Linked DNA regions of Homo sapiens. The protein of the gene in region 1 purifies or fractionates together with the protein of each later gene. This does not show direct contact. Each region holds a gene or a part of one and is shown in the gene's direction. Other genes may lie near its edges.

The links.
Region 2: the proteins of SUSD4 (region 1) and ITGA8 purify together in Homo sapiens (affinity purification with mass spectrometry; 3 studies listed by BioGRID and IntAct, with this or other methods). This does not show direct contact.

The regions. Positions count from the first base shown.
Region 1 is NC_000001.11:223,224,476-223,228,327, reverse strand, and holds part of SUSD4 (sushi domain-containing protein 4 isoform a precursor), read left to right. Parts: intron 1-589; coding exon 590-734; intron 735-3,852. UniProt on the Homo sapiens protein: Acts as a complement inhibitor by disrupting the formation of the classical C3 convertase.
Region 2 is NC_000010.11:15,513,923-15,517,422, reverse strand, and holds the end of ITGA8 (integrin alpha-8 isoform 1 preproprotein), read left to right. Parts: intron 1-178; coding exon 179-265; 3' UTR 266-3,469; downstream 3,470-3,500. UniProt on the Homo sapiens protein: Integrin alpha-8/beta-1 functions in the genesis of kidney and probably of other organs by regulating the recruitment of mesenchymal cells into epithelial structures.

The DNA.
Region 1 (3,852 bases):
ATGACAAGGCAGAGAGACATTTAAGAGACAGGGTGGCCTGTGCCCAAAGGATAAGTCTCTTCTGGAAAGGTCTGCTCTTGCTGCCCCTGACCTGGCAGGCAGTTGATGGCTAGAGGTGGTAGGGCATGAGAGCTGTGGAACAGGGGTCCCCTTTACCCTCTGTTTCTTGCTTTACCCAACCCCACAGCATATCCCAGAACATTCACAAAGGGCCCAGCTTCCCACTCCCCCACCCCTTGGTCCATTTCGGAGCAACTTCTCCAGGCAAGAGAGATGCCCACCTCTGTTCTCAAGAGGCAGATGCATTATTTAAGCCTGTGCCAGGCCTGCGCCTGGGACTGGAATGTGAGCATGCAGGTCTGCAACCTGGCAGAGCCCATGCTGGAGACAGGTTTTTAGTGTTGGGTGGATCCTGATGCAATTTACATGAGCTACAGGGGCACATGGTATCTCTGCCGAGCCCTGGGGGTCAGAGGCACCTTGCACGCATCTCTTGTGCCAGATGAATCCAGCAAATGAGCCCACGGGGAACCTCGGCACCTCTCATGGTCTGGGAGCCTCACGTACAGCTTTGTTCTCCCTCATGCAGAGCAAACGTGGCCCAGCACCCATGAGACCCTCCTGACCACGTGGAAGATTGTGGCGTTCACGGCAACCAGTGTGCTGCTGGTGCTGCTGCTCGTCATCCTGGCCAGGATGTTCCAGACCAAGTTCAAGGCCCACTTTCCCCCCAGGTCAGTGTCATGTCTTGGCAGCTGTGGCTCAAGGTCTGACTCAATGCAGCTACCCTTAGCAGCAGAGGGAGAAAGTGATGAGTGAAAAGTTGAAGCTCTAAAGGGAAACAGGGGAGAGCAAAAACAATGTTCTGGGATGTTTTGAGCACAAAGCTGGAGACAGACCTCATTTTCCTCTTTCTTTCTTTCCTACCTCTCTCCCTCCTTCCTGCAGTAGACCATTTGCAGGTGGGCATCATGGGGGGCTAGCGATGGGATCACAGAGTTAGGGCTACAGGCTGTGGACTGCTCCACCCAGAGGCACCATTCCCACTGTGGTCCCCCTGCATGTGGCCCTGGAGTGAAGCACCACACAGCTCAGTCTATAGGGAGGGTAAGATGCGCACACAGCTGACTGGGACACAGGTCAGAGGTGTGTGAACAAAAGTGTTATGCATTGAGAAGCCTCAGGAAGGAGAAAAGACTTTTCTGATTCCAGGAGCAATCAGGAAAGGGCTAGTGAGAGTCTACCATGAAGTCTTATCTGAACCCCTGGAGTGGGACATGTGGAAGGCGCTTCTACATCCTTCTGAGCTGCACCAATCAGCTCGGGTTGGTATCTTCAGCCTCAAGTCATCACCACCAAAGAGGACTGCACCAGCACCCTTAGGAACAAAGAAGAGCCACCCAGCACTACTGCTGGCAAATCATTGTTCCTGGAGGGAGAAGTAGTTTAGACAGCAAAAGGATAAGTTTATGAACATTGAGAAGAAGAGGTGAGGACAGCAAAACACCACAGAACACTAGCCAGGGGCCATTGGTACAAGCTGTCTTTTCCTTGCCTTCTGTGGCCATGTCAGAGTCTTCTCATTTCAGAACCTAATGCTTCAGAAAAGGGCATTTGTTTTTTGCCCACAGGGACAGCCTAGTCCCCAGAGTCATATGTACCTGAAAAAGGGACTATTGCTCATGGAGGAGGAGGCTCCTGGAATTAACCACTTCTCTCTTCCCTTCAGGAAAATGCAGTGTGTTGCTCACATCTCCCAGCTGTGAGAGGAGTGAAGGAAATGGGCAGAGCTGCTGGAGACAGCACCTACCCGCCTTTGCCCTTAACCTCACACCTCACAGGGCGGCCTCCCTCACTTAGCAATTCTCCCCTGCCTGGCAGCAGGGACCCGCTATGGTCACAACCTGATAGGTGCATCCCTCTTTCCCCAGCCACAAATGTGTGCTAGATGTGGGTGTCACCTGCATCCCTCCCCAGGCCCAGAGGTGTGTCAGTGCCATCCTGGTGCCATAGCAAGCTCTTGCTAAGATGCTGAAACCTTCCTTCCTCTCCAACCTGCCATCCACTCTCTGTCTTCCACATTATTATATATTCATCAAGGGACCATGTTCTATCATTGAGCAATTACAGTATCTCAAGAAGGCCTAAGGATTACAAAGAGAAAGCCAACCCACAAGGCTGTGATTGATAGTGCGTTCAAGTACTTTAAAAGAGCCCACAGAGCTATTTTTCTACATATGCTTGGAAGAAAAGTTTCCAGGATATCCACTAAATATTAAGATGTTTTTAAAATGTTCTTGAAACCCTTTCATTTGATGTTCTTCAGCCCTTGAGTCTTTCATCTTATATTATTCTTGAGTTGTTTTGGGAAGGTTGGCTTCAAATACATGACATGAATCCAAATGCATGACAAGAATCTCAAGGGCAAACCAAGAATGGACTTTTTTTCTCCAGGTTCCACAAGAGTAGAGCCTGCAGGGATGTTGACGAGGGGTGTATGGGAGCTGAGTGGCATGGCGGGGACACGTGGAGGGGAAGCTGCCAGATCTTGGGAGCTGTATCCTGGGTGTGGACTGTTAGGGTGAGAAATGGAGAAGAGAGGCGTCTGCTCACCCTGGCCTAGACAACATGGAGGTGCCAGGGATGGTGAGGAGGCAGGGAGTCCTGAGTGAGAAGAGGAGGCCAGCACAAGACAGTGAAGTGGCCGGAGAGGAAGGGAGCATCATTGTCAAGGAAGCAGTAACTACTGGTAAGCAGTAACTACTGGTGGCTGTGGAGGGAGAGCAGTCTGGCTCGGAGCAAGCTCCTCCTTTCCTCCTGCCTCTTGTCTTCTGCCCCCTGAAGAGCATGGTCTTGGTGGTCTCCCGCCCTCTCTGGGCAGTCTTTAAGAGCTGCGGGACAAGGAGTCCACCACCATAATCTCCAAGCCTTTGCAAGATGTTTCAAAAAGTCAGTGGACTTGAGCTTTAGAGAGACGCACAGCCTGTGCTTCCCCTCCACCCCCAGACGTTTCATCTTCTTGGGTTTAGAGCCCCTGCCGCCAGCACTCAGAGATTCAGGGTCTGCCCACCCAGCTGGGTCTTCTCTTCCTCATATTTTACCTTTGGCCTCCTCCCTCAGCACCAGTTCCCAGCAGAGACAATAAGAAACCAAGTTCCGGCCGGGCACAGTGGCTCACGTCTGTAATCCCAGCACTCTAGGAGTCTGAGGCAGGTGGATCACCTGAGGTCAGGAGTTCAAGACCAGCCTGGCCAACATGGTGAAACCTTGTCTCTCCTAAAAATACAAAAATTAGCTGGGGGTGGTGGTGCATGCCTGTAATCCCAGCTACTCGGGAGGCTGAGGCAGGAGAATCGCATGAGCCTGGGAGGCGGAGGTTTCAGTGAGCCAAGATCGTGCCACTGTACTCCAGCCTGAGTGACAGAGTGAGACTCTATCTCAAAAAAAAAAAAAAAAAAAAAAAAAGGAAGAAACCAAGTTCTATTGGCTACTTATTAGCCACCCTGGGTTCCTCTTGAGGCCAGGAGCAGAGTATGGGGGTCACACGGAGCCCAGGCTGTGATGTCAGACGCCCCGGGCTCCAATCAGGCAGTGTTGAATGTGCAGAGGGCTGAGAAGCAAAGGGAGCAGGCCAGGAACTGTGTGCGCGCCCACGTGAGGGAGCCCTGCAGACATGCAGACTCACTTTGCCGCCGCTCCTGGAGCCCTCACACCAGCAACCCGGGCCTTGCTTAGAAGAGTGGCGGGGGGTCAGGAGGTGGCGGTGAGCCTGCGTAGCTTGAACGGGGTAGTGACATAGTGCTCACAGCTTTCCTTTTTTTTCCTTCTTTCCTTTTTCTTTTTCTTTTTTTA
Region 2 (3,500 bases), on another chromosome or scaffold:
GAACCGGGAGGCGGAGGTTGCAGTGAGCCAAGATCACGCCACTGTACTCCAGCCTGGGGAATAGAGAGCGAGACTCAGTTTAAAAAAAAAAAAATACATAAAGTGAAAATTCTTTGAATGAGGGGTTTCACAGGTTCCCAGAATGACGTGATTTTATAGCCCATCTTTCCCTTTATAGTGTGGATTCTTTGACAGAGCCAGACCTCCTCAGGAGGACATGACCGACAGGGAACAGCTGACAAATGACAAGACCCCTGAGGCATGACAAGAAAAAAAAAGAAGACCAAAGACCTCAAACACTGGTCCTGTTCAAAGAAAAAGAAAGAACATGAGGGTTAAAAATCAAAGCTTTCTGATACCTGACAGTGACCCAGGAAATGGAGGGGACCCTGGAAACATCACCTCATCTACACCGCACTTTGGAGAAATTGTCCTGGGTGCCCAGTGAGCCCTGTTGGAAAAGGAAACACCAAAGCTGGAGAAGCCATCAGCAATTGTGGAAGATTTTCTTTTGCTTTAATCGTTCTGTACTTGGCAGACACTTTGAAATGCGTATGGGAACGTAAGTTGCAGTCCAGATCAATCCAGCATAAGTTGCAGAGATGAAATGTCTGAATCACTATAGAATTTACAAGGTGAACTAAGGTGAAATGACTGATTTACTATAGAACTTAGAACTAAGACCACACCATCCAACACTACTGTATCCAATGGAACATTTGACACCTCCCTATGGAAAAGAAACATTTCTAAGGACATTATGGCTCAGGGAGACAAGCAATATGTTGTTGGTACTGTGAAAGTACTTTTGAAAGGACAAAAATAATCTTGTGAGTGAGGGTGAGAGTTTATTTATTTATTTTCCATGTCTCTAGGTTGAGAATCTGTCATCTAGAGAATTTGGAAATTAAGATTTGGTTAGCTAGTTTTCAAAATCACTCACTCAGTTTCCTCCTAAGAACCACTGTGTGCAGATAACTCATTTAGCAGAGCTTCTTCAGAATTTAGACAGTGCTAAGGAAAGGAAGATTGGCATTAGGAATCAGTTCTATTTAATACCTTGCTGCCTTCCATCTGAAATTCCTTTCACTCACATTATCCAGGGACTCACATCTGCTTAATTTAGCTTTGCAAGATGTTGCATTTATATTTCCTTGTATATCTTTCCATTGACTTAGTTAATACATGAATTTCGAGGTACTCTCTACCTTTGGAGTGTTTAAAAGTCATGGTAAAATGTCTAGAGTTCATTAATTAAAAAGCAATTTAACATTATGGGTAAACATTATTTTTAATATCTATAAGAAGCAACACTTCTTATAGATATTTAGCTTGGGATTAAATACCCGTTTTTCCTGCTATGCCTTGTACTTGTATACACAGAGAAAACATGTTGAATATAACTTAGACAAAAACATAAAATTATACAGGCATGAGCCAAACTGGGAAAACTGATTCCTAAAGATTTTTATTTAAAATTGCTTATTCCAACTTTATTACTTATTTTTACTGCTAATCTTTATAATATGTAACTTTGGAGAATAATCTTTTATTTAAGCTATTTTCCCATCATCTTGAATTTAACCATCACAAATTTTTTATGTTTAAAACTCTTGTAAATAATTCATAATCTTGTAATATTATCATTTTTGAAGTAAAATTGACCAGCCAAATTTATAGGTAGTCTGCACAATTTTGTATCCTTTTTTAATAATGAAAAATTACTATGAAGAAATACTGAACAAATTTTTATGTGCAATATTTTATAGACCTATGTATCTGAAGCATGTTTACACTGGCGTTTTTTTTTTTAATTAATTTCCTAAATGTTAAGTATGATAGAACAAGCTGACCCAAATCCTTAAGTTTACAAAGCTGTTGGAAAACTTTGTGTCCTGATTTCAACAATCACGCTTTGTTTGAAAGATGAGCCAAGCTCACAGACACTAAATTTTATGTCATGCCATAAGCTGGAGAGGAGCCATTTGGCTACAGCTGCGGAACTTCATTGAGGAGCAAATGAAAGGCACATGGACGAGCACGCTGGTGCAGTTCATGTTCTTCCTGCCTGTGAATTGAATACTGTCCTGGTAGCAGTTTCGGGTCGGTCAGGAGCTCAAGGCTGGTTTGTGTGGCTGACTACGGATGAGCACTGAAGTTGCCTCAAAGAATTAAGGGGTGTCCACACCAGCCTCTGGGGGTCTTTGGTGTTAGTCTTCCAGGTAGAGCTGGTTTTACAAGTAGGTGGCCATCTACAGGATGTGATGTGAGCGATGCCAGACAGCTCTCTCTGACCCCAGGTAATGCCCTGAATCTGGTGATCCTGGCTGATCTGTGACCAATAGAGATTAGCTCCTTGGGATTTGGGGTCCTAAAAGGTCCCTGAAAAAATGCACCCCTTGTCTTTAAGCCAACATTGGTGAAGGAACTGAGAACTCTTAGGGTTACATAAAAAAAGACCCCTGTTGAGATAGTTTATGCAGATACCTGGAAGGAACTAGAGATGCCAGGAGGAAGACTGAGACCCAGAATGAAGCAAGGCATGAGGGCTCCAAAGTGAACTGCACCATCCCAGAGTCTCAGCCAAGATGGCCCTTTCCTAGAGGGACGGGCACCTTCCACCTGCCCACAGGCACTGCTACCTATGGGAATTGCAGAAGGCCGTTGTACACACGCGCATGCACGCAGTGGCCCTCTGCCCTTTAGAATATGGAAGCAAAGTCTGGGTGCAGTGACTCACACTTGTAATCCCAACACTTTGGGAGGCCGAGACGGGCAGATCACCTGAGTTCAGGAGTTCAAGACCAGCCTGGCCAACGTGGCAAAACCCCATCTCTACTAAAAATACAAAAATTAGCTGGGCGTGGTGGCAGTCTCCTGTAATCCCAGCTACCTAGGAGGCTGAGGCAGAGAGAGAATCGCTTGAACCCAGGAGGCGGAGGTTGCAGTGAGCTGAGATCGCGCGACTGCACTCCAGCCTGGGCGACAGAGGGAAACTCTGTCTCAACAAAAAAATAAATAAAATAAAAAATAAAAAAAGAATATGGAAGCAAATGGAGAAAGGGAGGAAACTGAGGTCAGGCAAACCTTCCAGCAATCCGTTCTGCCCAGAGAACATACTGACGACAGAGAACACACTGAGCGTTATCTGCTTCTAGTTAGAGCATTGCCGATTGCCTTCATAATTCATAATGTGCTGTGCTCCTCTGAGGGTCTATCTGTATTTCTCTTCAAAGAATTCCCTTTTTAAATTCTTGCAGCTGGGTTTTAAGACACAATAATGGGGCAAATTAAGTTTTATAAACTTGGAGATTTTTATACAGTAAATAAAAAAATAATATGTACTAGTCACCCCTGAAACTGCATTCTTAGAACTCGACTCTTGTTTTATTTAAATACGTGCGTAGATATCTGTGAAGATTTTCATGTACCTATTTACCTTGTCACTAATAAAATTAAAACTGAAAGACTTGATGGCATACTTTCGGTTTATTTCACAT